Homo sapiens: one gene and its partners. The protein of the gene in region 1 interacts with the protein of each later gene in a pairwise test. Each region holds a gene or a part of one and is shown in the gene's direction. Other genes may lie near its edges.

Region 1 (3,500 bases):
CTCTTCAGCGTCAATGGGAGTGGGCATTTTTGTGGGGTGGCCGAGATGAAGTCCCCCGTGGACTACGGCACCAGTGCCGGGGTCTGGTCTCAGGACAAGTGGAAGGGGAAGTTTGATGTCCAGTGGATTTTTGTTAAGGATGTACCCAATAACCAGCTCCGGCACATCAGGCTGGAGAATAACGACAACAAACCGGTCACAAACTCCCGGGACACCCAGGAGGTGCCCTTAGAAAAAGCCAAGCAAGTGCTGAAAATTATCAGTTCCTACAAGCACACAACCTCCATCTTCGACGACTTTGCTCACTACGAGAAGCGCCAGGAGGAGGAGGAGGTGGTGCGCAAGGTGAGGCTGGGTGTTGCAGGCAACTGCCATGCAGATGTGTCCTTGGTGCCGTACTTAGACCAGGTGGCCCGGTGGTGAGCAGATGCGGCAGGTCCGCCGAGCTGAGTCTCGTGACAGGCAGCTCCCAGTTGGCCGCAGGTGGGCGGGCCCAGGTCCTGGCAGCCTCGTGGGCTTTCCCTGCGGAGAGTACTGCTAGTAACCAGTGATGGTATTTGGGTAGATGTCACCGAACGACTTTGATCACTTTCCAATTATAATTGAATAATTGGGACCACAGTGTACACATTCTGTTTTTCTGTTACAAAGAATTTGAGGGTAACTTTCTCCTCTCCTTTTTGAATTGTGATACTTTCTGGAACAGTGCTTCCCAGCCTCCGTCCATGAGGAACACTTAGGTGATATTCACGAAGCACTGCGGTGGGCACGTAGGGCATCGAGACCCCACCTGGCCAAGGGCCCTTGCTTCCCAGGGCACTGTCCCTCAGTAGTTGGGAATCTCTGGTCTTTGATCTGGAGGTCGTTGCTTTATTTTTCTTTTAAAAACCCAGTATCCTGCAGTTTTTGGAAACAAACTCACTCCATCTAGGTCGTAAAGAAAATGGTGGTGGTGGGGTAGGTTTGGAATCCAGACATTTTATAATGACAAATATGGATCCTATATCAAAAATTCATTGACTGGGCCTTTTTGAGACAGTCCTGATTTCCTGGGATACTTGTAGCCAAACTCCTGAGTCTGTGCTGTCATGTGATGTCTGACGGGATTGAGTGTGTTTGCTCTTCAGAAGGGCTCAGATGCCCGTAAACTGGCACCAGCAATGGGAAAATGATGATGCTGACATACTTCATAATGCTTCCTTTATTCGAGAGAGTTCATCCTGAGATTCTCTCCTGCTTTTTAAAAAATATCCCTTCCTGAAATGTCAGTTGATAATAGATGGGTTTTCAGTGTTTTTTTCAGTTCTCTATGTTAAAGGAATTATTCACCTGTGAGCACCAAGTGTCCTAATGTATTTTGGGCAGAAAGGCGTGTACATGGCATATATAGGGATGTATAGAGTAGAGCCGCCTGCACTGTCTGCAGTCTTACATTATGCAAGTCCTGAACAACTTGGGGCTTGTAGAACTTTGGAAAAGTATCAGTCCCTCTCTTTTGTGAGAAAAGAAGTGGATGTCATTTATTTCCAGTTACTGAATTCTGAATTAGTTACTGAAATTCTGTGTTTTAGGTCTTTTTTTTTTTTTTAAATGGAGTTTTGCTCTGTTGCCCAGGCTGGAGTGCAGTGGCGCAATCTCGGCTCACTGCAACCTCCACCTCCTGGGTTCGAGTGATTGTCCTGCCTTAGCCTTCCAGGTAGCTGGGATTACAGACAATAGCTCGGATTACAGACTTTTAGGTATAAAATGAATACTGAATTGCTAAAGTTGCAGGGATAATTGCTAATGAAGCTTTAGGTCCTTAGCTGGCTAAACTGGAAGCTGGCTGTGTGTGTGTGCGCGCACAGTTTTTCTTCTTAAATACCGTAATACTTGGGTTTTCATAAAGTGTGCGGACTCCTGACCTGGTTGGTGTTTTTAAAACTCTAGTGTCCTACAACTTGCATTATAAAAACTTGATCTAGATAACTGCTTTTGTGTGTCGGGTTATGGGTTAAGCATCTTGGTAAGCGGCCTGCAGGGTCTGTGGGCATCTGCCTGCAGGCAAGATCCAAGTGTTCCTCAAACCACTGGGTGCTCCAAGGCGAGTCCAACAGAGCCGCTGGTGGAGCATCATTGGAAGGAACTTGGTAACCCTCCCCTAAACTGTTAGCCAAGCTGGAGAACTCTGGGCCCATATGGGTCAGTGTTAACATTAATTCATTTTATTGAAAGTGACAAATGAGAACCTGGTTTGTTAATGTTTGGTGGAATTTCAAATAGCTTTTTTTTTTTTGAGCCAATCTCACCGTCAGCCAGGCTGGAGTGCAGTAGTGCAATTTTGGCTCACTGCAACCTCAACCTCCGAGGTTCAGGCCATTTTCCTGCCTCAGCCTCCCAAGTAGCTGGGATCATAGGCGCCCACCACTGCACCCAGCTAAATTTTGTATTTTTAGTAGAGATAGGGTTTCACCATGTTGGCCAGGCTGGTCTCGATCTCTTGACCTCAAGTGATCTGCCCACCTCAGCCTCCCAAAGTGCTGGGATTACAGGTGTGAGCCACCGTGCCCCGCCTCAAATAGCTTTTTGTTTTTGTTTTTGAGACAGGTCTTTCTCCGTCTGCCGGGCTGGAGTGCAGTGACTTAATCACAGCTTGTTGTAGCCTTGACCTCCTGGGCTCAAGCGGTCTTCCTGCCTCAGCCTCCTGAGTAGCTACAGGCGTGCACCACCACGCCTGGCTAATTTTTGTATTTTTTTGTAGAATCAGTGTCTTGCTATGTTGCCCAGGCTGGTCTTGAACTCCTGGGCTCAAACAGTCTTCCCACCTTGGCTTCACAAAGTGCTGGGATTATAGGAATGAGCCACTGTGCCCGGCGTCAAATATCTTTTAAGCTTATTGGGCAGTGTAGAGAAATGGAAGTGGTCCTTGAGGAGGTCCCCAGACTGGACTTCGCTGCTGGCTCTCCCTGCCTGCGAAGGTGCTCTAGGCCTTGTGCTTAACGGGCTGGGCTAGTGGCTCATCCAGGATTGGAGTCTTAGGTGTCTTGAGGCTGAGACTCTGGGTGTCTAATGCTTTCTCCCTCTGGGTTTCCCATGAAGAGTCAGTGCAGTTTTGTTTTGTTTTTTTTTTTTTTAAGACAGAATCTTGCACTGTTGCCCAGTCTGGAGTGTAGTGGTGTGATCTCGGCTCACTGCAAGCTCTGCCTCCTGGGTTCACACAATTCTCCTGCCTCAGCCTCCCGGGTAGCTGGGACTACAGGCCCTTGCCACCACGCCCAGCGAATTTTTTGTGCTTTTAGTAGAGATGGGGTTTCACCGTGTTAGCCAGGATGGTCTCGATCTCCTGACCTCGTGATCCGCCCGCTTTGGCCTCCCAAAGTGCTGGGATTACAGGCGTGAGCCACTGCGCCCGGCCGAGTCAGTGCAGTTTTAAGAACAAAGTAGTGTGCCGAGGAGAGGGTTGTGCGCCTGTGCTGGTAGAGCCCCCGGGCGGTTTTCTCAAGGTTCTCTCAGGACTTCGA
Region 2 (2,479 bases), on another chromosome or scaffold:
TTTGTTCTACAGAAAATCATGTGGACAAAACCATTGTCATGTGTAGAGATGATCAAAGACCGACTATGCAACCAAAAAATGTAGAAAAAGATTATAGATGAGGATGATGATAAAGGTATATTATTGTCTTGATTTTGTGACATCTTGGGTTTTGTTAACTATGGAAGTTTTTATTCTAAGTTAATATCCATGTTTATATCTATTATTATATTCCTAATATTGTGTTTTTAATGAGGATCTCCAAATTATACTTTTCAACACCACAAAACCTAAATCCACCTCTTTAAAGAGGGCTGGGACAGAGTCACGAAAAACATAGAAGCTGGTGTTACCCCGCAAATGCTCAGAAGGCAGTCAACATTTTGAGGTGGGGGTTTAGAGGTGTTGTAGACAGGTAGGCTCCAGAACACTTACAAATATGAATGCATCATACAAAAGTCATCAAATAAGTTTATTTGAAAGCATTTTGATTTGCTTTTAGGATGGAGTCCTGAGCATCCTTCTGCTATTGTGACTACTCTGACTTGTTTCCTACCTCATCTCAGCAGTGTCTTCTACTTTCCTTTTTTTCACATGGGTCCTTATTGTTGTATTTGTATTTATTTATTTTTTGCTTTTGTTTTGATTTCTTTTTTCTAAATACTAATTTTTTAAAAAAATTTGTTCAAGATGATATCTATGTCTAGTTATCTCTCAATTCCTTTGGCTTACTTTTATATAGGCCCTCGAGACTGGACTTACAAGCACTGATTATAGTAAATAACAGATGGCAAACTATTTTGGAGAGTGTGAACAATAAGATTTCTGCCTCTAGGCCACTGACAAAAAAAGATGAATACATTGCTATCCCCACCCAAGACAGAAAGAATTTCCCAGCCAAAACAGGAGCAGATGTATAAATCATGGGCAGAGAAAATAAGAGGGGTTTTCCTGGACATAATGGAGTAGGGACTAATCACATACTGTCATAGCATTTGTAACATAAATGCATTTCATTGACGCAGAGCTGTAAAAACAAAAGGAGTTCTTCCATAAATATAAGATGAAGGGTGTTAGTTAACTGCAATGACAAAGAAGATTACTAAGTTGCTTATATGAAATGTGGGAGCTTAAATGTGTGAAGGATGACCCTGTAAGGTGCCACACCCACGGCTGAACGTATATAAATGGTCCTGTCCAGATGTGGCATGCAAACTCAGAATCTTCTCAGTGTAACTCAGCTGAACTCACATCTCCCATCAACATGTCCTACAACTGCTGCTCTGGAAACTTCTCCTCCCGCTCCTGTGGTGGCTACCTGCACTACCCAGCCTCCTCCTGTGGCTTTTCCTACCCCAGCAACCAGGTCTACAGCACTGACCTCTGCTCTCCCAGCACGTGCCAGCTGGGTTCCTCTCTCTATAGGGGCTGTCAGCAGACCTGCTGGGAGCCCACCAGCTGCCAGACATCCTATGTGGAGTCCAGCCCCTGCCAGACCTCCTGCTACCGTCCCAGAACCTCCTTGCTCTGCAGTCCCTGCCAGACAACTTACTCTGGGTCTCTAGGCTTTGGATCCAGCAGCTGCCGCTCCCTGGGCTATGGATCGAGGAGCTGCTACTCAGTGGGCTGTGGGTCCAGTGGCTTCAGATCCCTGGGTTATGGAGGCTGTGGCTTCCCTTCCCTGGGCTATGGCGTTGGATTCTGCCGCCCAACCTACTTGGCTTCTAGGAGCTGCCAGTCTTCTTGCTACAGACCAACTTGTGGATCAGGCTTCTACTATTGATCATCTTGTTAAATTGCTGATTTTGTTGGCTAATGCCTTCAATGCCTCTACTCATAACCTTTATTGTCTTCATCATGTACAGAAAGAATTAGCCTCTTATTCTATAATTATCAAGTTCTCAGTTTGTCTTTGTCCCCAAATACTGGCTGGCAGGCTTCATCTGAAAAACTGTAATTGGAGAACTAGCTCAAAATAAATCTTGAAATACACATTAAAAGTAGAATTTATATTATTCGATTTTCTTCCACAATTGTATAAAAAGTCAAATCATTTTAATCCAATAAATCCATTGGTCTCATATTCAGCTATGTTTGTGGTGGTTTTATATTGCTAGGGTTTTGGTTGTGATGTATTAGGCAATTATTATGAAACAATTGGTGTATATATATAGGAATAGGTTTCAAAATCATATGAAGTTTGCGATTCAGACAAACTTTTGGGGGCCTCAGAGATTTTTGTTATTCAAACTACAGGTAGTGGAAGTCTACTAAATTTACAGACTTTTATTCATTAAAATATCAGAATCAGGAATTAGCTTGATCCCCTTATAAAATGTGGATTCTTGTGTCTATGCCAACAAGCATAAGGTAGCAAACTAGTTGATAGTTATATCAGGAATCTGCAGAGAAAAAAATACTATTTAGAACAATATGGTTATAGATATACATAAAAGAAAAATGGAATTGAAGAGAAACAAAAGTGATTTGAAGTAACTTT
Region 3 (2,829 bases), on another chromosome or scaffold:
GTTAGTACAGGACCTCCGGGATTATACCATTTTATTTTTATATTTCTCCCCCAGTAGTAAAATAGTCTAGTGTTGTCTCATTGAGAAACCAACTTTCTGTTTCAGAGATTTCACTCCTCCAGGACAGAGGGAGACTGGATAAGCACAAGTATGTCCCTCAAACACCAAAATAGAAGAAAGTGTTATGATTTAAATTGACTAGCCAAAAGGAATTGGAACTTAGAGCCAGCAGATAATTTAAAATCCCATTAAAATAGCTACTGGAGCCACTGGGTATGTCAGTATGAGAAAAATATAGAGGGATAGTTGAAACTAACTAAAATCATACATTTTTTAAAACAATTTTACCAGAAATACATATTCTCAAATGACCTTTAAAGTACTAAAACTTAGGAAAACAATAATTTATCCTGATGCTTTTCCCTATGTAAAGCAGTTTAGAAGCTCCTTTTTGGAAATTGACATCAAGGCCAATGTAGAAAGCAAAATAAATTCATGTCATAATCAGTGTATTTTTTAACCAAGAACAATATTTTTTCAGTTGGAATATGAGAAACCATGCAATACATAACCTTGAAATAATCATGAAAAATGTCAAGATGCCTGACTTTCTTTAAGAGGTCTACTTCTCTGCTTTTGTTCACAGTAGGATACATAATTTTAACTTGGCCCAACTTCATTATCTATATTCAAGAATATCTTAAACATAAGCCAAGGTTTCAGCTTCACTCAGCTTATTTATTTATTGAAATGACTAAAATGAGCACATATTTTTGAATAAAGATATTTTGGTAGAAAGTCAAGTCTGAATAGAATTCTGAAATAAAGCAAATCACAACTTAGAAAAATAAATTCTAACCAAGCAAAACATATTGAAATTGTCCATATTTCTGTCATATAGTTTGCAAGGATTTTCATTTTCTCTTATACTTGTTCCAAGTTACTCACTTCTGGCAATTTCCAAGAAGAATAGAATTTTTCTTCAAAAAGATGTAAGTTCTCACTGTTTCAAAGAAGTTGCTACAACTTTCAAAGACAATTCTAAGAGAGGAATCTTAAGAATGTTTGTGCAATGGTGGTTATAATTGGAATAAGCACATAGGCTTTAAAATGTGTCTGTTTTGTTTGGATAATTTAAGAAGGATAGATCCTATTAAAACTCAGTCGCATTGGTTTATAGATAGACGTAATCAATGGATGGCATTGCAAGGAGCATCCAGTTTTATGGAGGGTGGAAGCCTCACTTCCTTGGCTATAATAAAGAGTTCTGATGCATCTTCATACAACAAGAGGAAGAGTCTGCACGCAGAAGCACCACCTTCTAGGGATAAATAAAGGGTCAAGCTAAGGAAGGGCAGAACAAACTTCAGACACTCACTTCTTTGCCTCAACTTCAGCCTGCTCTCACAACCTCACTATGTCTTGCCCCAACTACTGCTCGGGAAACTCCAACTCAGGATCTCTCAGAACCTCCCGCCATATTCCTCTCACCTCCATCGACCTCTGCCCTACCAGCGTGAGCTGTGGAGATGTCCTCTACTTACCCACTAGCTCTCAAGACCATACCTGGGTCACAGACAACTGCCAAGAGACCTGCGGTGAACCAACCAGCTGCCAGCCGGTCCACTGTGAGACCGGCAATCTTGAAACCTCTTGCGGTTCTTCCACTGCTTACTACGTGCCCAGGCCTTGCCAAGGAAGCAGTTTTCTTCCTGCTTCTTTCTTCTCCAGTTCCTGCCTTCCAGTATCCTGTAGACCACAGAGGTATGTGTCCAGCGGCTGTCGTCCACTGAGGCCGCTGCTCAATAGTTACCAGCCCATAGGAGACTGTGTGCCCAATGCCTATCGCCCCCAATTCTGCTTGTCCAAGAGTTGCCAGCCCCAAAACCTCCTCACTTCTGGATGCCAACCCTCGAGTTGCTTGGCCTATCGTCCTCAAAGTCTTCACGTTGTGTCCAGCAGCCTCAGACCTCTGGGGCCTCTGTTCAGTGGTTGCCAACCTCTGACCCATGTGTTCAGCACGTGTCGTCCATCTTGCTCTGGACTGTGAAACCAGCAGCTTCTTTGTTCCAGTGAATAATCACTCTGAGCATCCACAACAAAAATTCAAACTCCATGGACTTTTGCTTCTTTGCTAGTAGCAACTGATGTTTCTTAGTTTTACTGTGCCTGATCTAATGCAAGCTGCTTCTCTCGCATGTTTTATCTTGTTTTCATCTTTCCTTGACATCAAAAAAATTAGTTTACAATGCTATTCAATGTTGCTCTGGTCTGGGAAGAATGTATTTGTTTTGCACTATAATAAATGCGATTAAGTCCAAATTAAGAATCTGGTTCAGCGCTTTGTGTTTCATGACTTAATTTCAACACAGAAATAACCAACGTCAATTGCTTGCAAGATGACTGAGCTGGACAAGTGATACTCAACCATATATTCTTACCTGACAGTAGAGGGATTGTTTGATGGTTTATTCCTTAAGCTGCTTTTTAGACTTCTGACCCTATGTACTTGAGAGACCCAAAAAGTCCTTGGGAAAGCTGTTTTGAAAAGGAAAAATTAGGAGTGATGTCTCTTATCTCTCTACCCCATGAACACACTTCCACCAGAATGTTCTTTCTAATTGCAAACCTAACCAAGTTTCTGCTTACGCCTTTGATGGCTTCCTATAATCTATTCCCATAAGATAAATATTCAAACCTCTTAGCATGACACCTAGTTCCCTCACTGTCTTTCTCCCCCATACCTCTCTGGCTTCATGCTCTTTTGCTCAATATTGCAAATAATAAAACTAAGCTCCTGCGATCCTGACTTACACATGGGTCCCCAAA
Region 4 (3,261 bases), on another chromosome or scaffold:
CACTGCCAGTTCTGGAGAGGAGCTCTTCACTCCTCCAGTGGTTAAGCCAGCAGGGGCAGGTGGGGAGGACACAGCAGTAGAATCAGCCAACAGCTCATGTTTAGACCTTGGGCAGCCAGGGAAGCCTACTCCTGGGGCCTCCCGGAAGCCATGGAGAGAACAAAGCCATTGCATTTTTATAATAAAATTTGCAAACATATTTAAAAGCCAACAAACTGTTAATGAATCTCTACATTCTCATCGCCCAGCTTCAACAAGGATCAAGTCCTGGCCATTTGACAGCAGCATTTAAAGGCTCTCCTCTACTGTTACTTGGAAATAGCCACTTTCTCCCAAGGTTTCTTATACTCTATGGCACATCTGACCACCAGTAGCAGGCAGAATGATGTCTTCAACCCCAACACCATCAAAGATGTCCACATCCTAATCCCTGGAACGTAGGAATTAGGTTACATGGCAAAGGGAAATTAAGGTTCCAGATGGGATTAAGGTTGCTATTCGGCTGACTTCACAGAGATTATCATGGATTATTCAGGTGGGTCCAGTGTAGTCACCAGGTCCCTTAATGTGGACATGGGAGGCAGAAGAGGAAGTCTGAGTGATACAGTGTAAGAAATGGCTGATTTTGGCTTTGGAGATGGAGGAAGGGGACCATGAGCCAAAGAACACAGGATGCCTCTAGAAGGTGAAAAAGCAGGGAAAGGGATTTTCCCCTGAGGCCCCCAGAAAGAATCACAGCCCTGCTGACACCTTTATTTTAATCCACTGAGACCTGTTTTAGACTTCTGATCTCCAAAACTGTAAAGTAATAAATCCATGTTGTTGTAAGCCATTCGGTTCATGGTAATTTGTCACTGCAGCAGCAGGAATTAGTCAGTATCTCATAAGGATGGCATCCAGGTCCATTTCCCTAGCTAGATCCAGGGTCTCATGTAGGAGCAGCTCCTCAGATGGGGCCACTTCTGCACCCCAGAACCTCCTGCAGGTTGGGGCCAAGGTGAAGGAGATATGAGGATGCATGAGAAAGGGGTGCTGGGAGGAAACAATCCAGCTCCCAAAAAGAAACAAGTGTTTCTGTTGCTGAGAGAGGCAATTAAGAGAGTGGGACCCCAGGGTGGAGGTCCTTGTGTATAGAGAAGCAGGGCTGGGGAGGCTGGCAACCAGGGATGAGCTGTGAGCCAGGACACCTGGGCCAAGAAGGGGCAGGGAGGTCAAGGAAAGGAGCCAGGGCGGGAGACACCCAGCTTCCTCTGGGACATTCATTCAAGTGACACCTGTTGCCACAGACCACATTAGGAATGAGGGTGGAATGTGGAGGTTTATTGTCTTCACAACCACTAGCCCAGCCTGTTTCTGCTGTCCCCCACCCCACTACCAGGATAAAGGGCTGGCTGTCTTGGGGCTGAGGGAGATCGGGTGCTGAGCAGGATGCAGGGCCGCGTGGCAGGGAGCTGCGCTCCTCTGGGCCTGCTCCTGGTCTGTCTTCATCTCCCAGGTATGGAGGCCGTGATGCCCTTGGGCAGGAGGGACTGGAGGTCCCCCAGGAAACAGGAATTAAGGAAAGGGGTAAAGGCAGGAGGGTACACATTTAGGTCCCTGAGGGAAAAGGAAGAATAGGCATAGGGGAAGCAAAGGGAACTGGGGACTCGGGGACTGGAGACCACTGGTTGCTTTATCTTCCCTTTCCCTCAGGCCTCTTTGCCCGGAGCATCGGTGTTGTGGAGGAGAAAGTTTCCCAAAACTTGGGGACCAACTTGCCTCAGCTCGGACAACCTTCCTCCACTGGCCCCTCTAACTCTGAACATCCGCAGCCCGCTCTGGACCCTAGGTCTAATGACTTGGCAAGGGTTCCTCTGAAGCTCAGCGTGCCTGCATCAGATGGCTTCCCACCTGCAGGAGGTTCTGCAGTGCAGAGGTGGCCTCCATCGTGGGGGCTGCCTGCCATGGATTCCTGGCCCCCTGAGGATCCTTGGCAGATGATGGCTGCTGCGGCTGAGGACCGCCTGGGGGAAGCGCTGCCTGAAGAACTCTCTTACCTCTCCAGTGCTGCGGCCCTCGCTCCGGGCAGTGGCCCTTTGCCTGGGGAGTCTTCTCCCGATGCCACAGGCCTCTCACCCAAGGCTTCACTCCTCCACCAGGACTCGGAGTCCAGACGACTGCCCCGTTCTAATTCACTGGGAGCCGGGGGAAAAATCCTTTCCCAACGCCCTCCCTGGTCTCTCATCCACAGGGTTCTGCCTGATCACCCCTGGGGTACCCTGAATCCCAGTGTGTCCTGGGGAGGTGGAGGCCCTGGGACTGGTTGGGGAACGAGGCCCATGCCACACCCTGAGGGAATCTGGGGTATCAATAATCAACCCCCAGGTACCAGCTGGGGAAATATTAATCGGTATCCAGGAGGCAGCTGGGGAAATATTAATCGGTATCCAGGAGGCAGCTGGGGGAATATTAATCGGTATCCAGGAGGCAGCTGGGGGAATATTCATCTATACCCAGGTATCAATAACCCATTTCCTCCTGGAGTCCTCCGCCCTCCTGGCTCTTCTTGGAACATCCCAGCTGGCTTCCCTAATCCTCCAAGCCCTAGGTTGCAGTGGGGCTAGAGCACGATAGAGGGAAACCCAACATTGGGAGTTAGAGTCCTGCTCCCGCCCCTTGCTGTGTGGGCTCAATCCAGGCCCTGTCAGCATGTTTCCAGCACTATCCCCACTTTTCAGTGCCTCCCCTGCTCATCTCCAATAAAATAAAAGCACTTATGGAATTTGCTTCTCCTTGGTTTCTTTGTTTCTGGGCATAAGCTGAAGTGAGTCTGGGCATAAGCTGAAGTGAGTCTGTTCATTCCTGTTTTCTAGCCATCCCCACGGCCCTCTAGGGGCCCCTGCAGACGCTGTCTTGCTATCCCCATCCTTCACAAAGGATCAGTGCCCAAGTGCTTGAGGGTGGAGCCTCAGTCTCACCCCGGCCAGGTGGGAGAGCTGTTCCAGAATTGTGCTGGAATCTGAAAGGGGGAGGAGGGACAGCAGGACTAATTGAGATGGCACCTGCAGCAGGGGGCAAGGATGAGGTCCCAGAAGGCGGCTCCAGGGCCAGGTGGACAGGATTCCTTGCAACTCACAGAAACAGGAAGCCAAAAGTCGCAATGTCTACGCTTCACTTGTCTTTTCTTCCCCGGAAAGTCAAGCTTCTTGGAAGTGGAGGTACATCGACCTCCTCCCTTACAGGCATCATTTAGCACATTGTGTCCCACAGAACCACAGACTT
Region 5 (3,500 bases), on another chromosome or scaffold:
GTGATCTGCCTGCCTCAGCCTCCCAAAGTGCTGGGATTACAGGCGTGAGCCACTGCGCCTGGCTGCTTTACTCATTATTTACTTATTTATTTATTTATTCATATTATTATTATTATTATTATTATTATTTGAGACAGAGTCTAGCTCTGTTGCCCAGCGTGGAGTGCAGTGGCACGATCTCGACTCACTGCAAACTCTGCCTTCCAGGTTCAAGCAATTCTCCTGCCTCAGCCTCCCGAGTAGCTGGGATTACAGGAGCCCACCACCACGCCCGGCTAATTTTTGTATTTTTAGTAGAGATGAGGTTTCACCATGTTGGTCAGACTGGTCTCAAACTGTTGACCTCAGATGATCCACTCGCCTCAGCCTCCCAAAGTGCTGGGATTACAGGCGTGAGCCACCGCGCCCAGCCTTTACTCATTTTTTAAAGCCACCTTCTTTGTTGGATGTTTCCACATAATCAAAGGTGGAGAGAGTAATAGAGTGAGTCCATGTATGCTCCTGCCCTGCACCTGCAGTTTGCAGCTGTGGCCGGTCTTGTTTCTACCGCAGTTCATCCTGTGTAGCTGTGTCTGTAAGTATATCAGTTGTTTTGCTAAGAAAATAGAATCTTTTCTTTTTTTTTTTGAGATGGAGTCTCACTCTGTCACCCAGGCTGGAGTACAATGGCGCGATCTCGGCTTACTGCAAGCTCCGCCTCCTGGGTTCACACCATTCTCCTGCCTCAGCTCCCCCCCGCCCCCCCGCAGTAGCTGGGACTATAGGCGCCTGCCACCATGCCCAGCTAATAGAAAATAGAATCTTTTCTTACAAAACTTAACCATTGTTGAACTTTCACACCTAAGAAACTAACAAAAATTCTTTAGTGTCATCTGTTGTCCAGTCAGTGTTTGGATTTCCCCAGTTTGGCTCATAAATTTCATTTTACAGTTACTTTGTTTCTTCAGAAGCCAAGCAGGATCTGCAGGTTGCATTTGGTTGAAGGCCTTCTCAATTTTTTTTTTTTTTTTTTTTTTTTTTTGGAGACAGTCTCGTTCTGTCGCCCAGGCTGGAGTGCAGTGGCGTGATCTTGGCTCACTGCAATCTCTGCCTCCTGTGTTCAAGCAACTCTCCTACCTCAGCCTCCAAAGTAGCTGGGACCATAGGTGCACACTGCCACACCTGGCTAATTTTTTGTATTTTAGTAGAGGCGGGGTTTCACCATGTTGCCCGGGCTGGTCTTGAATTCCTGAGTTCAGGCAATCAGTCTGCCTCGGCCCAGCAAGGTGCTAGGATTACAGACCTTGTCATTTTAAAGACAGCGCCATGTGTGGCCTGTCCTGTCCCCTTTCATACTGCACTGGCATTAGCCCTGGCTACTCTATTTTTATGCTGTGGAGGGTGCCGGTAGGCGGAGATTCCCACTTTATCTGCCCCTGCCAGACACCTTACTCTTGTCTTTCTCTTTTATTTCCTTTTTTTTTTTTTGAGACGGAGTCTCACTCTGTTGCCCAGGCTGTAGTGCAGTGGCGCGATGTCTGCTCACTGCAACCTCTGCCTCCCGGGTTCAAGCGATTCTCCTGCCTGAGCCTCCTGAGTAGCTGGGATTACAGGCGTGCACCACCACGTCTGGCTAACTTTTGTATTTTTAGTAGAGACAGGGTTTCATCCTGTTAGGCAGGTCTTGAACTCCTGACCTCATGATCTGCCTGCCTCGGCCTCCCAAAGTGCTGGGATTACAGGCGTGAGCCACTGTGCCTGGCCTCTCTTTTCTTTTTTAAAATATTAGCCAGGGGCCGGGCGCAGTGGCTCACGCCTGTAATCCCAGCACTTTGGGAGGCTGAGGCAGGCGGATCACGAGGTCAGCAGATCGAGACCATCCTGGCTAACACGGTGAAACCCCGTCTCTACTAAAAATACAAAAAATTAGCCGGGCTTGGTGGCAGGCACCTGTAGTCCCAGCTACTTGGGAGGCTGAGGCAGGAGAATGGCATGAACCCGGGAGGCGGAGCTTGCAGTGAGCCGAGATCGTGCCACTGCACTCCAGCCTGGGCAACAGAGCGAGACTCCGTCTCAGACAAAAAAAAAAAAAAAGTAGCCAGGGTGCCTCCTTCAGCTGATGCATCATGGCTTGGCTCTTGCATTGCTGCATTGTCATCACCTATTCTGGTTCATCTGTCGCCCCAGCCTTTACTGTGGAGCTCTGCCCACCTGAGGTGATGTTGTCATCTAGTGGGTGTAGATGCCAAGCCCTTCTAAACCAGAAGGGAGGAACTAGTATTGTCACTGTCCTACCATTGAGGGTGCTGAGGTCATAGTGAGGACCACTCATACTCTTACTAGCATGGCAGTGGACTCAGCCATTCTTGGCTTGACTTCTGTGACCTGGAGCCAGTCTCTCCCCTCTCTGGGCCTCAGTTTCCTTGTTTTAGGCCAGTGCATTCCTGACGCCCTTGGAGGTGGATCAATTTCTCCCTCTAGTGACAGCATCATGGCGGGCTCAGGCCCAGGACGCAGCTGCTTTGCAGGCATGTGTTGCCTGCTGCCTGGGCTCCCCATCTGCTTTGCTCTGCCCTTCTTCCTCACACCCATGTTCCCTCAGTACCACCCTCACAACATGCTGGGGTGTAAGGGCTGGTTGATGACAAGCATGTCCATAAGCCTAGGGGATTCCTTGGGTGTCCTAAAATGTGACCTAAGATAATTATCGGGGAACATGCCCCGATATTCACGTAAGTTCTTTTCATTTTCCTTAAGTGTCGGCCAGCTTGAGAAATAAAGGGACAGAGTACAAAAGAGAGAAATTTTAAAGCTGGGCATCCGGGGGAGACATCACATGTCGGTAGGTTCCGTGATGCCCCACAAGCCGCAAAAACCAGCAAGTTTTTATTAGGGAGTTTCAAAAGGGGAGGGAGTGTGCGAATAGGTGTGGGTCACAGACATCAAGTACTTTACAAGGTAATAGAATATCATGAGGCAAGTGGAGGCAGGGCAAGATCACAGGACCACAGGACCGAGGCGAAATTAAAATTGCTAATGAAGTTTCGGGCACCATTGTTATTGATAACATCTTATCAGGAGACAGGGTTTTGAGATCAACTGGTCTGACCAAAATTTATTAGGCGGGAATTTCCTCTTCCTAATAAGCCTGGGAGCGCTATGGGAAACTGGAGTCTATCTCACCTCTGCAATCTCGACCATAAGAGACAGGTATGCCCCAGGGGGGCCAGTTCAGAGACCTACCCCTAGGTGTGCATTCTCTTTCTCAGGGACGTTCCATGCTGAGAAAAAGAATTCAGTGATATTTCTCCCATTTGCTTTTGAAAGAAGAGAAATATGGCTCTGTTCTGCCCGGCTCACCAGTGGTCAGAGTTTAAGGTTATCTCTCTTGTTCCCTGAACAATTGCTGTTATCCTGTTCTTTTTTTCAAGGTGCCCACATTTCATATTGCTCAAACACACATGCTGTACAATTTGTGCAGTTAATGCAATTATTACAGGGTCCTGAGGTGACATACATCC
Region 6 (3,500 bases), on another chromosome or scaffold:
GCACCCCGCCTGGCTAATTTTTAATTTATTTTTTGTAGAGATTGGGTCTCACTATGTTTCCCAGGCTGGTTTCGAACTCCTGGGCTCAAGCAATACTTCTGCCTCAGCCTCCCACAGTGCTGGGATTACAGGTGCAGTCACTGTGCTTGGCCAAAAGAAGCTTTTTGATGTAGATGAAATCAGGTGAGAAAGCAAGGCCTGCAGGCAAGAGGACCACTGGCCATCAGAATAGGGTATATATAGTATGCTCTGTCAGAGGTCTGGAGCATTTTAGGGTTGCAGAAGACATCGATATTACTCTCTGAGGCTGCCTTATGAATTAATTGGATTTGTAGGCCCAGAATCTGGGGATCCAGGCTTGGCCAGGTGGGCATAGCCCAATAGGATAGTAGTAATAACATTAGGATAATATATATTAGGCTGTTATATGCCAGGCACTGGTCTTAGTGCTTTACATGTGTTGTCTCATTTTGTTCTCACTTAAGGAGTAGGTGCTATTGTTATTGTCATTTTACAGATGAGGAATTGAAGAACACAGCATGCCCAAGGTGCCATGGGTAGTAAGTGGTAAAGCTAGGATTCAAACTTGGAAGCCCTCCTTACTCATCATGCTTAATTGCTTATAGTATTTGGTAGACAGGATTGACTGACTGTATATACTACGCATATTCTGTGCACACTGTAGAACATTAGGACTTTCAGAAGTCTTTACACTTTTTTATGGGGTTAGAGAAGAGTCTAAGTCCTTGAGGGACTTTGGATCCAAACTAGAATGGGTAATTTGAGCAGACTGGTGTCTTCCATCTCATTAAGGCTTCCAGTACTATTCAGGAATAGGCGATGAGAAGATTCTGGCTTTCAAAGGGATATTGGCCCTCTTGCCCTTCCAGGAGACTCCATATTGAAACTCAAGCCAGCGTTTGTCTACCTGGGCTGAGTTTTGGCTGTATTTTTGGTGAGGCTATAAAGCAGTGGTGAAAACAAGTGCTGTGCTTGTGCAGGATCCATGAAGAACTTAAAATATTTTTTGGTCTTAGCTCCACTGAATCCCCCTGAAATCTCATTATAGGGATAGGGAAATTGAGGACCTACACTAGCGTATATCCTACTATATATATAGGCAAGTTACTGTAGCTCATTCAGTGAGTCAGGAGAGAGATGGGAAGACAGCCATACTTGGCATTATCTGCTTCTGTTCAGGTGGTAGTGGCCTCATTGCCTTTGAGTACGCGCTGGACTTCACAGGGTGCTATCCCTCTACCCTATGTGAAGGGAGCCAGGTGCCCACTTGCAGCCATCAGAGGCAAGCCTTTGGTTGTGTTGGAATGAGGCTTCGGAAAGCACAAACTATGGCCATTACTGTATTGTACAGTGAGATTTCTTATTTGAGGATTAAAGTTGAGAGAAATTTGAATGTTGAGTATTAAAGGGAGAAAGACAACATTTCTGCTTTGTTCCTTTTTTCTTTTTAAGGAAGTTTGAGTTATTCGTGAGTAAAACTTAGGCTTTGATTTTTGTATTTAGTTAGGCCTCTGAGGAGCAGGCATTCTGCAAATTTAAGGGGAAAACTTAAAGGAAAAGTGATTTGATTTTTTTTTTTTTTTTTTTGCACATGTTCACTCAGAAAACTTTACTAGACTTTTAGCCATGTTCCTATTACTGCCACATCTGGGTTTTCTTTTTCTTCCCTATTTAAAAAGTCCCGCAGTCATTCAGGGCCTCGAGTAGAGACCGAGTCTAAGGCAGCAAATGAGAAGGCCTAAGGCTGCAGCCAGCTGTGCTCTCCAGGCACTGTTCATTCCCCCAGGGTGCCACTTACTAGTGTGGGGGTTGGGGGATCACCAGAATGTCAGAGCAAACCCCTGTGATTCGCTTTGTTTGCCTTCACCTTGGGAGAGGGGAGGAGGGTATGTGGAGACATCAAGATACAGACTGGAAAGCCAGGGGCAAATGGCTCCTAGTGGAGCTGAGAAAAGAACCTTGGACATTTTCTGCTGCTTGTCTGAGTCTACTTAGCTTCCAGGACTCATTGTACAACAGGGTCACCTCACGTTACTTTGGACCCATAGCTTTAATGTTAACTGTTGCCACCTGAGAAGTGACTGCACAATTTTTCTCTCTTCTCTCTTTTGAACTTTAGAGCTCCATTTAAAGATGCAGGCCAGTGTTGCATGTTGTTTTGAGAATGATCTGGGAGACTCAGAGCTGTAATAATGCTGCAGGTGCTGCTATTAGGGTCTTGAACTTTAGTAACGAATACTATGATTTAGAAAAGGGGCCCAGAAACACTGGGGAGTGGCCCATGTTGCGTGGATATTCCTGAAGACTAGATGGAACAGGGCCACAGTGGGAGGGAGTAACCCAGGCTCTCTGTTCTTTTTTTTTTTTTCTTTCTTTTCTTTTTTTTTTTTTTTTTTAAACTTTCCTCCCCTAAGTTTTAGATGCTTCTGGATGTTCAATGCTAGCACCTTTACAGACTGGAGCAGCTCGATTTTCTTCGTATTTACTTTCAAGAGCAAGAAAAGTGCTGGGCTCCCACTTATTTTCTCCCTGTGGTGTTCCGGAGTTCTGCTCCATATCCACCAGAAAGCTGGCGGCCCACGGCTTTGGCGCATCCATGGCGGCAATGGTGTCCTTCCCTCCCCAGAGGTATCACTACTTTTTAGTGCTGGACTTTGAGGCCACGTGCGACAAGCCACAGATTCATCCTCAGGTAACTGTTCCATCATTGCTTTAGAAAAGGTGGGGGGGGCAAGGAGGGAGGGAGGATAGTTTTGCTTCCTGGGACACAAAGGAGCTTTCTCATGCCTTCCTGTCTTTTAGCTACTCATTTAGAGTTCCTGTCTAGGAAGCAGGACTTGTTTCAGGTATGCTAGTGTAAGGTAGACCTGAGAAGTCTCTGGAGAGAACTGGGTACATTGTTTCTCTCTAGTCTCAGCTTTTGGGAATCAAAATATTTCCTTCTCCCGTCCTTCCTTTCTCTGTTCTCTTCTTTCCTCCATTCTCCTGCTACTGCCACTTGTTCCTTTAAGGAGTGCTATAGTAGCTGGCCTCCAAGATGACCTCAATGATTCTTAACTCCTGCTATTCACACCCTTGGTAGTTCCCCTCCTGCACTGAATCAAAGATATTCCTGTATAGCTAATAGAATACAGTGGAAGAGATAATGTACGACTTCTGAGGGTAAGTTATAAAAAGTATTGCAGTCCACTTTGCTCTTTTGGACCACTTGCTCTGGGGGAAGCCAGCTGTCATGCTGCCAGGACACTCAAGCAGCCCTGTGGAGAGGCACATGTGTGTAGGAACTGAGGCTCTTAGCCAAAATCCAGTGCCCAACTTGCCAGTCATGAGAATGAGCTATCTTAGAAGTGAATCTACCAGCCCCGGTCAGGCCTTCAGATGACTGCAGCCCCGGTGGACATGTGACTTCAACCTTAGGAGGGACTTTGAGCCAGACCAGCCAGCTAAGCCACTCTCAAATTCCTGACTCACAGGAACTG
Region 7 (3,500 bases), on another chromosome or scaffold:
GGTGAGCCGGCATGCAGGGCCCTAGGCTGACCACACTTCCCCCACAGAAGCGGTACCGCGCGGTGTATGACTACAGCGCCGCCGACGAGGACGAGGTCTCCTTCCAGGACGGGGACACCATCGTCAACGTGCAGCAGATCGACGACGGCTGGATGTACGGGACGGTGGAGCGCACCGGCGACACGGGGATGCTGCCGGCCAACTACGTGGAGGCCATCTGAACCCGCAGCGCCCCCATCTGTCTTCAGCACATTCCACGGCATCGCATCCGTCCTGGGCGTGACCCGTCCATTCTTCAGTGTCTCTGTTTTTTAAAACCTGCGACAGCTTGTGATTCCTACCCCTCTTCCAGCTTCTTTTGCCAACTGAAGCCTTCTTCTGCCACTTCTGCGGGCTCCCTCCTCTGGCAGGCTTCCCCCTTGATCGACTTCTTGGTTTTCTCTCTGGATGGAACGGGCATGGGCCTCTCTGGGGGAGGCAGGGCTGGAATGGGAGACCTGTTGGCCTGTGGGCCTCACCTGCCCCTCTGTTCTCTCCCCTCACATCCTCCTGCCCAGCTCCTCACATACCCACACATTCCAGGGCTGGGGTGAGCCTGACTGCCAGGACCCCAGGTCAGGGGCTCCCTACATTCCCCAGAGTGGGATCCACTTCTTGGTTCCTGGGATGGCGATGGGGACTCTGCCGCTGTGTAGGGACCAGTGGGATGGGCTCTACCTCTCTTTCTCAAAGAGGGGGCTCTGCCCACCTGGGGTCTCTCTCCCTACCTCCCTCCTCAGGGGCAACAACAGGAGAATGGGGTTCCTGCTGTGGGGCGAATTCATCCCCTCCCCGCGCGTTCCTTCGCACACTGTGATTTTGCCCTCCTGCCCACGCAGACCTGCAGCGGGCAAAGAGCTCCCGAGGAAGCACAGCTTGGGTCAGGTTCTTGCCTTTCTTAATTTTAGGGACAGCTACCGGAAGGAGGGGAACAAGGAGTTCTCTTCCGCAGCCCCTTTCCCCACGCCCACCCCCAGTCTCCAGGGACCCTTGCCTGCCTCCTAGGCTGGAAGCCATGGTCCCGAAGTGTAGGGCAAGGGTGCCTCAGGACCTTTTGGTCTTCAGCCTCCCTCAGCCCCCAGGATCTGGGTTAGGTGGCCGCTCCTCCCTGCTCCTCATGGGAAGATGTCTCAGAGCCTTCCATGACCTCCCCTCCCCAGCCCAATGCCAAGTGGACTTGGAGCTGCACAAAGTCAGCAGGGACCACTAAATCTCCAAGACCTGGTGTGCGGAGGCAGGAGCATGTATGTCTGCAGGTGTCTGACACGCAAGTGTGTGAGTGTGAGTGTGAGAGATGGGGCGGGGGTGTGTCTGTAGGTGTCTCTGGGCCTGTGTGTGGGTGGGGTTATGTGAGGGTATGAAGAGCTGTCTTCCCCTGAGAGTTTCCTCAGAACCCACAGTGAGAGGGGAGGGCTCCTGGGGCAGAGAAGTTCCTTAGGTTTTCTTTGGAATGAAATTCCTCCTTCCCCCCATCTCTGAGTGGAGGAAGCCCACCAATCTGCCCTTTGCAGTGTGCAGGGTGGAAGGTAAGAGGTTGGTGTGGAGTTGGGGCTGCCATAGGGTCTGCAGCCTGCTGGGGCTAAGCGGTGGAGGAAGGCTCTGTCACTCCAGGCATATGTTTCCCCATCTCTGTCTGGGGCTACAGAATAGGGTGGCAGAAGTGTCACCCTGTGGGTGTCTCCCTCGGGGGCTCTTCCCCTAGACCTCCCCCTCACTTACATAAAGCTCCCTTGAAGCAAGAAAGAGGGTCCCAGGGCTGCAAAACTGGAAGCACAGCCTCGGGGATGGGGAGGGAAAGACGGTGCTATATCCAGTTCCTGCTCTCTGCTCATGGGTGGCTGTGACAACCCTGGCCTCACTTGATTCATCTCTGGTTTTCTTGCCACCCTCTGGGAGTCCCCATCCCATTTTCATCCTGAGCCCAACCAGGCCCTGCCATTGGCCTCTTGTCCCTTGGCACACTTGTACCCACAGGTGAGGGGCAGGACCTGAAGGTATTGGCCTGTTCAACAATCAGTCATCATGGGTGTTTTTGTCAACTGCTTGTTAATTGATTTGGGGATGTTTGCCCCGAATGAGAGGTTGAGGAAAAGACTGTGGGTGGGGAGGCCCTGCCTGACCCATCCCTTTTCCTTTCTGGCCCCAGCCTAGGTGGAGGCAAGTGGAATATCTTATATTGGGCGATTTGGGGGCTCGGGGAGGCAGAGAATCTCTTGGGAGTCTTGGGTGGCGCTGGTGCATTCTGTTTCCTCTTGATCTCAAAGCACAATGTGGATTTGGGGACCAAAGGTCAGGGACACATCCCCTTAGAGGACCTGAGTTTGGGAGAGTGGTGAGTGGAAGGGAGGAGCAGCAAGAAGCAGCCTGTTTTCACTCAGCTTAATTCTCCTTCCCAGATAAGGCAAGCCAGTCATGGAATCTTGCTGCAGGCCCTCCCTCTACTCTTCCTGTCCTAAAAATAGGGGCCGTTTTCTTACACACCCCCAGAGAGAGGAGGGACTGTCACACTGGTGCTGAGTGACCGGGGGCTGCTGGGCGTCTGTTCTTTACCAAAACCATCCATCCCTAGAAGAGCACAGAGCCCTGAGGGGCTGGGCTGGGCTGGGCTGAGCCCCTGGTCTTCTCTACAGTTCACAGAGGTCTTTCAGCTCATTTAATCCCAGGAAAGAGGCATCAAAGCTAGAATGTGAATATAACTTTTGTGGACCAATACTAAGAATAACAAGAAGCCCAGTGGTGAGGAAAGTGCGTTCTCCCAGCACTGCCTCCTGTTTTCTCCCTCTCATGTCCCTCCAGGGAAAATGACTTTATTGCTTAATTTCTGCCTTTCCCCCCTCACACATGCACTTTTGGGCCTTTTTTTATAGCTGGAAAAAACAAAATACCACCCTACAAACCTGTATTTAAAAAGAAACAGAAATGACCACGTGAAATTTGCCTCTGTCCAAACATTTCATCCGTGTGTATGTGTATGTGTGTGAGTGTGTGAAGCCGCCAGTTCATCTTTTTATATGGGGTTGTTGTCTCATTTTGGTCTGTTTTGGTCCCCTCCCTCGTGGGCTTGTGCTCGGGATCAAACCTTTCTGGCCTGTTATGATTCTGAACATTTGACTTGAACCACAAGTGAATCTTTCTCCTGGTGACTCAAATAAAAGTATAATTTTTACCTGCGGACTTGGTTTCCTCTCTGGCTCTGAGCTGCTGTTGTGTGTGTCTGTGTGTGGGTGTGTGTCTCTAGCTGTAAGGTGCTGCTGTGTGTGTGTGTGTCTAGCTGTAAGGTGCCACTGTGTGTGTGTGTGTGTGTGTGTCCTGTCTGCTTGGGGGCACTGGCCTGTGGCCCTCCTGGGACCTCTGCTGCCCCTCGGGGAGAGAATGACTTGTCTGGATGCCAAGGGGGAGTTTGCTGCTGTCTGTCAGGCCCTTGGCCCCTACTTCCTCCTTGCTGAGAACTCCCCACCAAC

The links.
Region 2: the proteins of YTHDF1 (region 1) and KRTAP13-1 interact in a two-hybrid assay, tested with the Homo sapiens proteins (one large-scale study listed by BioGRID).
Region 3: the proteins of YTHDF1 (region 1) and KRTAP26-1 interact in binary tests that used the Homo sapiens proteins (3 or more experiments, as listed by UniProt).
Region 4: the proteins of YTHDF1 (region 1) and C6orf15 interact in binary tests that used the Homo sapiens proteins (3 or more experiments, as listed by UniProt).
Region 5: the proteins of YTHDF1 (region 1) and BICD2 interact in a two-hybrid assay, tested with the Homo sapiens proteins (one large-scale study listed by BioGRID).
Region 6: the proteins of YTHDF1 (region 1) and ERI3 interact in a two-hybrid assay, tested with the Homo sapiens proteins (one large-scale study listed by BioGRID).
Region 7: the proteins of YTHDF1 (region 1) and LASP1 interact in binary tests that used the Homo sapiens proteins (3 or more experiments, as listed by UniProt).

What each region holds. Positions count from the first base shown.
Region 1 is NC_000020.11:63,199,132-63,202,631, reverse strand, and holds part of YTHDF1 (YTH domain-containing family protein 1), read left to right. Parts: coding exon 1-345; intron 346-3,500.
Region 2 is NC_000021.9:30,394,844-30,397,322, forward strand, and holds KRTAP13-1 (keratin-associated protein 13-1), read left to right. Parts: upstream 1-1,187; 5' UTR 1,188-1,243; coding exon 1,244-1,762; 3' UTR 1,763-1,979; downstream 1,980-2,479. UniProt on the Homo sapiens protein: In the hair cortex, hair keratin intermediate filaments are embedded in an interfilamentous matrix, consisting of hair keratin-associated proteins (KRTAP), which are essential for the formation of a rigid and resistant hair shaft through their extensive disulfide bond cross-linking with abundant cysteine residues of hair keratins.
Region 3 is NC_000021.9:30,318,624-30,321,452, reverse strand, and holds KRTAP26-1 (keratin-associated protein 26-1), read left to right. Parts: upstream 1-1,137; 5' UTR 1,138-1,417; coding exon 1,418-2,050; 3' UTR 2,051-2,329; downstream 2,330-2,829. UniProt on the Homo sapiens protein: In the hair cortex, hair keratin intermediate filaments are embedded in an interfilamentous matrix, consisting of hair keratin-associated proteins (KRTAP), which are essential for the formation of a rigid and resistant hair shaft through their extensive disulfide bond cross-linking with abundant cysteine residues of hair keratins.
Region 4 is NC_000006.12:31,110,723-31,113,983, reverse strand, and holds C6orf15 (uncharacterized protein C6orf15 precursor), read left to right. Parts: upstream 1-1,408; 5' UTR 1,409-1,428; coding exon 1,429-1,495; intron 1,496-1,692; coding exon 1,693-2,603; 3' UTR 2,604-2,761; downstream 2,762-3,261.
Region 5 is NC_000009.12:92,754,834-92,758,333, reverse strand, and holds part of BICD2 (protein bicaudal D homolog 2), read left to right. Parts: intron 1-3,500. UniProt on the Homo sapiens protein: Acts as an adapter protein linking the dynein motor complex to various cargos and converts dynein from a non-processive to a highly processive motor in the presence of dynactin.
Region 6 is NC_000001.11:44,338,258-44,341,757, reverse strand, and holds part of ERI3 (ERI1 exoribonuclease 3), read left to right. Parts: intron 1-2,435; coding exon 2,436-2,713; intron 2,714-3,500.
Region 7 is NC_000017.11:38,918,558-38,922,057, forward strand, and holds the end of LASP1 (LIM and SH3 domain protein 1), read left to right. Parts: intron 1-47; coding exon 48-221; 3' UTR 222-3,213; downstream 3,214-3,500. UniProt on the Homo sapiens protein: Plays an important role in the regulation of dynamic actin-based, cytoskeletal activities.